Homo sapiens: one gene and its partner. Changing the gene in region 1 together with any one later gene gives a genetic interaction. Each region holds a gene or a part of one and is shown on either strand. Other genes may lie near its edges.

What was found. A genetic interaction does not mean that the proteins touch.
Region 2: changes in WAPL (region 1) and UBL5 are lethal when combined (synthetic lethality), as found in Homo sapiens cells (one study listed by BioGRID).

The regions. Positions count from the first base shown.
Region 1 is NC_000010.11:86,515,210-86,518,857, forward strand, and holds part of WAPL (wings apart-like protein homolog), read right to left. Parts: intron 2,883-3,648; 5' UTR 2,861-2,882; coding exon 2,362-2,860; intron 1-2,361. UniProt on the Homo sapiens protein: Regulator of sister chromatid cohesion in mitosis which negatively regulates cohesin association with chromatin. Involved in both sister chromatid cohesion during interphase and sister-chromatid resolution during early stages of mitosis.
Region 2 is NC_000019.10:9,826,347-9,830,094, forward strand, and holds the start of UBL5 (ubiquitin-like protein 5), read left to right. Parts: upstream 1-1,571; 5' UTR 1,572-1,638; exon of another isoform or gene 1,639-1,718; intron 1,719-1,980; 5' UTR 1,981-1,991; coding exon 1,992-2,047; intron 2,048-2,245; coding exon 2,246-2,329; intron 2,330-2,490; coding exon 2,491-2,528; intron 2,529-3,618; coding exon 3,619-3,662; 3' UTR 3,663-3,748. UniProt on the Homo sapiens protein: Ubiquitin-like protein that plays a role in cell proliferation and sister chromatid cohesion by associating with spliceosomal proteins. Participates thereby in pre-mRNA splicing by maintaining spliceosome integrity.

The sequences.
Region 1 (3,648 bases):
AAGATAGCGCCATCGCACTCCAGCCTGGGGGGACAAGAGCGAGACTTCATCTCAAAAAAAAAAAAGAAAAAAAAGAAATGTCAGTTGGAACAACAAACACAAGCAGAATAGCATTCGCAGAGCCTTGTACAGTGGTTTGACGGACAGTAGGTGCTCAATATGTTGATAATAAACGAATCTCATTCCAGTTCTGCCACTAGCTGACCTTGGACAGTCATTTAACCTCTTTGAGCTTCTTATATAAAATGAGAGCTGAGTTAAAATTCATTTTAGTTCAAAAAAAGTTTGATGGGCCAGAAGCGATGGCTCACGCTTGCAATCCCAGCACTTTGGGAGGCCTAGATAGGCAGATCACTTGAGGTCAGGAGTTTGAGACTAGCCTGGCCAACACGGTGAAAACCTGTCCCTACAAAAATACAAAAATTACCTGGGCATGATGGCAGGTGCCTATAATCCCAGCTACTGGGGAGGCTGAGGTGGGAGAATCACTTGAATCCGGGAAGCGGAGGTTGCAGTGAGGCAAGACTGCGCCACTGTACTACAGCCTGGGCAACACAGCGAGACTGTGTCTCAAAAAAAAAAGTTTGATGATTTTAATATACATTTATACATTTTTAGGAGCTGACCTGGAAACAGTTTTTATGCTGTCTATGCCTTTTTTTTTTTTTTTTTTTGAGATGGCATCTTGCTTTGTTGCCCAGGCTGGAGTGCAGTGGTGCGATCTCGGCTCACTGCAACCTCTGTCTCCTGGGTTCAAGTGATTCTCCTGCCTCAACCTCCGTAGTAGGTGGGATTTAGAGGCACCCGCCACCATGCCCAGCTAATTTTTTGTATTTTTAATAGAGATGGGGTTTCACCATGTTGGCCAGGCTGGTCTTGAACTCCTGACCTCAGGTGATCCAACTGCCTTGGCCTCCCAAAGTGCTGGGATTACAGGCATGAGCCACTGCACAGGTCCTTTACGCTGTTTTTTAATGGAAATTTAACCTAAACTTAACTTGTCAACAACGCCTGAGGAGAAATGTGGGCAAAGCAGGAAGGACAGCCAAATTAGAATTAACCCTGAGGATCAAGGGAATGACAATAACAGCTGGCTCATCGTCTCATCCAAGAGTGAGAAAAAGAGTGAAAAAATGCTCAACATTTTTAGTAAAACTATGCAAGGCCCAGTACATTGTACTGTTTCACATACCTTAACCTTCAAAGGACAAATTTGCCTTAAGAATTCAGTACAGCCAAGTTTTGTCTGTGTTTACTTCCTTTCAAAATAGGAGATTTTTATAACCTCTCATTATTGCTAAACTTTGCCAAGACGTCAAGAACTAAGGTTTCTTTTCAATTACAGTATACTGCCACCCTTATCCTAATGCTGATAGAGTGCTCCCACTTCTCCACCCCACCTCTTCCCTGCCACCCTCAATATTAGCTCTTCAGTCTTTTAATTAATTGCACCTTTTTCACTTATTATAAATCTCAAATCCCTTACAGAAGACAGAACAAAATATATCGTTTTAGGAGAGAATACTAGATGCTATATTTACAAATTAACATTTTTAAAATACAACCAGTTTTGTGGTTTAAAATCTATCAACACAGCCGGGCACGGTGGCTCATGCCTGTAATCCCAGCACTTTGGGAGGTGAGGCGGGCAGATCACGAGGTCAGGAGATGGAGACCATCCTGGCTAACACAGTGAAACCCTGTCTCTACTAAAAATACAAAAATTAGCCAGGCGTGGTGGCGGGCGCCTGTAGTCCCAGCTACTCGGGAGGCTGAGGCAGGAAAATGGCATGAACCTGGGAGGCGGAGCCAGCATGGGCGACAGCGAGACTCCTTCTCAAAAAAAAAAATCTATCAATACAAGTTGATACTGGCCCCAAACTAATCTCAATTTGGAATCAAGTTCAATTCTTTAAATGTCTCCACTCAATACCCCCTTAATCTTTCTGAACTAGTTTTGGCAGAGAGTCTACCATTGGTAACTAATCCTCATTTTAAATACTCATCTCATTTTCATTATCAATAACCATCCAAATCCTCCACAGTAATAGAAATGAGATACTTTGTGATCCTAACACAACAAAAAGAGATATTTCTTATTGGAATTGGGGTTATAAACTTATGACTGTTCCCAAAACGTACCCTGCGCAACAGTCTATAAATGTTAACATCCAAGTTGTTTATTTCAACCTCCAACTGGTTTCTTTAAAGTTCTTAAATGTCTTTTACAAAACTATCAATGGTCCCCATGTATCATAAGTGCAGAAAGAAAACACAATATATATTTTAGAATTTAAATCATTTAAATAAATTGGTTGCACAAAGCTCTCTTGGCGGAGAATAAAGAAAATCAAAACTTACCTGAAGTTATTAATTTATTACAGCTACTTATGCTTGCATCATCTTCTACAATTCGGTTTGTGCTCTTTTCTTTCCCAAGTAAAGTGTCCTCCAAAGGGAAGCATTTATCAGAAACGACAGTGTCTTCAACGACCACATGACTAATTTTGCTATTAGCTTCAAGTACTGAAGTGACCTCTTCCAACTGAGCAGCTTCACTAGATTCTGAATAAGAGGAACACTTAACCTGGGCTAAATTCTTTGAAGAAACTGGTAGAGACTCATCATCACTATCAAATCCAAAAGGATCTCCAGTACTTTCTTCTTCCACTTTAGGTTTCTTCGGAATTTCTTGGATATCTGGTTTGAAATTGGGCCTCTTCTGCCCTAATTTAGCCATAAATGTGGTCTCTCCCCATTTTGTGCTAAGGGTAGTCCGTTTGTTGGAAAAGACTTCATCGAATTTTGAACTGCCATTTCCACCTTTCCTACTGTATGTTTTCCCAAATCTGGATGTCATTTTGACACCAGTTTCATATTCTCTGTGAAAAAAAATTTAAGAAAACATATAATCATCAAATACAAGTGTTAAACAGTGCATATAAAAATAAAAACCTAGGGATTCTTCCCTCATGACTTTTGACACTCACCACACAGACTTTTAAATAAACAAATATGAGGAAGGGGTATAAAGAAAGGCTGATTTATTACCCTACATGCTTCCATGTCAATTTTCCTCCACAATGAGTACATATTCCTACGCTACTTACAAAGTAAAAAAACTTAATGATTAACCAACTTATAATACGATATCCATAAAGCTAACTTAAAATGAAGCATATTAAGTTCCAAATGAATTAATTTACTATTCTTATAAACATCATTTTTACCTTAAAAAATTATCTGTATAGAGGCTGGGAGGCCGAGGCAGGCAGCTCACTTGAGGCCAGGAGTTTGAGACCAGCCTGCCCAACACGGTGAAACCCCATCTCTACTAAAAATACAAAAATTAGCTGGGAGTGGTGGCACGCACCTGTAATCCCAGCTACTTGAGAAGCTGGAGCAGAAGAACCGCTTGAACTCAGGAGATGGAGGTTGCAGTGATATAATGATAACCTGTATAGGGTAATTACTTATATAAAATCTTAAGCACAGAATGTTAGTTTTTTTCAGGGCCTCAGAAATATCCAATACTTGATTAAATTTAGTTCTTTGAAATTTCATGGCACTAATTCACATGAGAAAAAAGGTCCCCAAAATGGTGCTTTTTCTCATGTTTTACAACCTGCAGCTTTTAACCCAATCTTG
Region 2 (3,748 bases), on another chromosome or scaffold:
GAAGATTAAAAACTGAGTAAAGGCCGGGCACAGTGGCTCACACCCAACACTTTGGGAGGCTGAGGCAGGCGGATCACGAGGTCAGGAGATCGAGACCATCCTGGCTAACACAGTGAAACCCCGTCTCTACTAAAAATACAAAAAAATTAGCCGAGGGTGGTGGGGGGCGCCTGTAGTCCCTGTTACTCGGGAGGCGGCTGAGGCAGGACAACGGCGTGAACCCGGGAGGCGGAGCTTGCCGTGAGCCCAGATCACGCCACTGCACTCCAGCCTGGGCGACAGAGCGAGACTCCATAAATAAATAAATAAATAAATAAATAAAATTAAAAAAAAAACAGTAAAAATCCCACGGCCGGGGAAATCAGGACCAAACCAGTAAGGAGCAGCTCTTTAGGCATAAGCACGCGCATTAAAGACAAAAAGTATCCTTAACATGATAAGGATAACCAGCTCATTAGCGCTCATGCATATGGACGGCATATCATGAATGGAGGCGGCTCTCAAGCACACAGGGGCCAAAGTAAGCAACACACCTATCATTCAAAAAGGTAGACACTGGCTAGATATTAGGCAGCCTTGGGAAGAGAAAAAAAGCCTGGCCAATAAGGTGAAACCCCATCTCTACTAAAAGTACAAAAATTAGCCGGGCGTGGTGGCGGGCGCCTGTAATCCCAGCTACTTACTCGGGAGGCTGAGGCAGGAGAATCGCTTGAACCCGGAAGGCGGAGGTTGCGGTGAGCCGGCACCGCGCCATTGCACTCCAGCCTGTGCAACAGAGCGAGACTACGTCTCAGAAAAAAAAAAAAAAAAAGACCCAAACTATACCAAGCTGGGGCTGATCTTATCTCGCAGAGGTCAGTCCGCTCTCCCCACTCCGAGAGTGGAATACTGTGCTTAATAAACTTGCAGCTTTGCCATCTCTGTGTGTCTGGTCCAAATCTTTCTTCAGGACACCAAGAGCCTGGAACTGTCCGGCACCATGCGGTAACAGCAGCTGTTGGGCAGCGTAGAGTCTACTCTAGGATCAAGCTTCGCCTACTGACTGGAGTCCGTATCCCGGGGGAACGCGATGGCCAGAGGGAAGAGGTGAGCCAAATGCTCACCAAGCCCAGCCCTGAATGAACCCAGGGGGTCAGAAGGGATGACTGCAGAACTCGTCCCCCACCCCCACCCTCCGCCCTTGCTCCTAGTTGCCGCTGCAAGAGGCTTCGGGCTCAGGATCAGGAGCTTACCCCTACTCCCGGGACCCTCTGGCGTCCCCACCATGTGACCGAGTCTCCCTGCAACAAACAATGACTTCAAACGAGCTGGGCGCCGGCGCCTGACCTCTGACTCTCGCTCCACGCCCCTTCCCTGGCCACAAACCCGCCGAGGCCCCCCTCTCTACCCGGCGCGCCTACCACAGGCGCGACACCTGTCAAGCCTTGGGACACCGAAACCGTACCTGGGAACAGCAAACACACCACAGACTGCAGACCCGGAAGAACTTGTCCCAGTGTTGACCACACCCCCTGGCTAGGGGCAGGGCTTCCGGCCTCGAACTTTAACTTCCGCTTCCGGTTCCTAGCGTTAACTGCGACCGGGGTTCAGCGCTCGGGTGAGGAGCTGGTGGCGTCGGCAGGTTCGAGGCGATTCGAGGTGAGGGGGTCAAGCGGAGAGGCTCGGAGTCGGAGAAAGCTGTCGCGACCCAGCCACCCAGGGTCTGGGGTCGGTGGGAGGTGAGGCCAGGGAGTTTTGTGGCAGGGCTTTCAGGCGGCGAGAAGGGGCGGAGGCGCGGCTCCCCGGGGTTCGCGGCCCTGGGACAGGGGACTTGGGGCCTGGGAGTATTCGAGTCCGGGGGGTTGGGGGCAGAACGGAAGGCTCAGTAACCTGGAATTTTAGGGCCTGGGACTGGGAGACTTGTAGGCTGGGGCTTCTGGGCCTGGGAGACGCCTGAAGCTCTGACTTTGCTGCCTCCCACCCACCCCCCGCTTTGTGTAGCTCCAGCTAGGATGATCGAGGTTGTTTGCAACGACCGTCTGGGGAAGAAGGTCCGCGTTAAATGCAAGTATCCACTGGCAGCCGAGAGGCAGTGGTACCCGCAGGGGTGCTTGGCGTGAGGCAGGCAACTCAATCTGTGTTGTCGGATGGTTTTAGTTAAACCCGGGAGAGGGGGCGGATGGGGTCCTGGCAGATGGTATTCTGCCCTAGAATGTCCTCTTCCTCGTTCTACCGCTTCCATTTGCCTTAACTGCTCTGCGCCCAGCACGGATGATACCATCGGGGACCTTAAGAAGCTGATTGCAGCCCAAACTGGTACCCGTTGGAACAAGATTGTCCTGAAGAAGTGGTGAGTGCAGCGGTAGAGCCACTGGGTGGACTGGACTAGGCCGGAAGGTTTTGGTTGGGGGAGCGCTGCAGGCAGCCCTTTGCTTAGGCTTGGCTACCTCATTTGGCCTACAGACTGAAGAGCCTCCTTAGCCTTATCTCTGAAATGTCTCTTTTTCTTAGGTACACGATTTTTAAGGACCACGTGTCTCTGGGGGACTGTATCCTTTGTGTGACTTTTTGAGGAAGCATCTACATACCCAGCCTCGGTTATCTGTTCAAAACTAAAGTCTGCATGAGCTTATGCATATTAAGTGTTTAACTTAATACGTGGCACATGGTGAGCACTTAGAAAATGGGAGCTAGGTAATTATTTGGTTGGGGAGGAGAGTGGTTGGTGAAATAGTTTGACTTCAAGTTCAAAATATTTATTACTGACCTCCACCTGAGTGCTGGACAGTAGGTCAGGGTGGGGTGAGACTCAGGCATATCTATTGTGCAAAAGGAGCAGAAACTTTTTACAATTTTTATTTTATTTATTTATTTTTTTGAGACAGTCTGGCTCTGTCGCCCAGGCTGGAGTGCAGTGGCACGATCTTGACCCACTGCAACCTCCACCTCCCGGGTTCAAGCAATTCTGCCTCAGCTTCCCAAGTAGCTGGGATTACAGGTGTGTGCCACCACTCCCTGCTAGTTTTTGTATTTTTAGTAGAGATGAGGTTCCACCATGTATGCCAGGCTAGTCTCAAACTCCTGGCCTCAAGTGATCCTCCCGCCTCGGCCTCCCAAAGTGCTGGGATTATAGCCGTGAGCCACTGTGCCTGGCCTAGAAGGAACAGAAACTTTTTTTTTTTTTTTTGAGATGGAGTTTTGCTCTTGTTGCCCAGGCTGGAGTGCAGTGGTACAATCTTGGCTCACTGCAGCCTCTACCTCCCAGGTTTAAGCGATTTTCCTGTCTCAGCCTTCCAAGTAGCTGGGATTACAGGTGCCCACCACCACACCCAGCTAACTTTTTGTATTTTTAGTAGAGACAGGGTTTCATCGTGTTGGCCAGGCTGGTCTCAAACTCCTGACGTCAAGTGAGCCACCTGCTTCGTCCTCTCAAAGTGCTGGGATTACAGGTGTGAGCCACTGCACCCAGCCAGAAATTCTTTTGTAAAGTTTTGGTTCTCTCCAAATAAAAATGGCCTGGTCCAAAATGGGCTTCCTTAGCCCTGGGCTGAGACCTCAGGCCACCTGACCCGGCTGTGAATGGATGAGAGGGGTGGGGACGGAAGTCAGAGTCAGGATTCCTTAACACCTTTCCTTCAGATGAAATCCACGATGGGATGAACCTGGAGCTTTATTATCAATAGATGAGAATCCTCATCTTCCTGCCCCGCTTTCCTCTCCCATCCTCATCCCCCACACTGGGATAGATGCTTGTTTGTAAAAACTCACC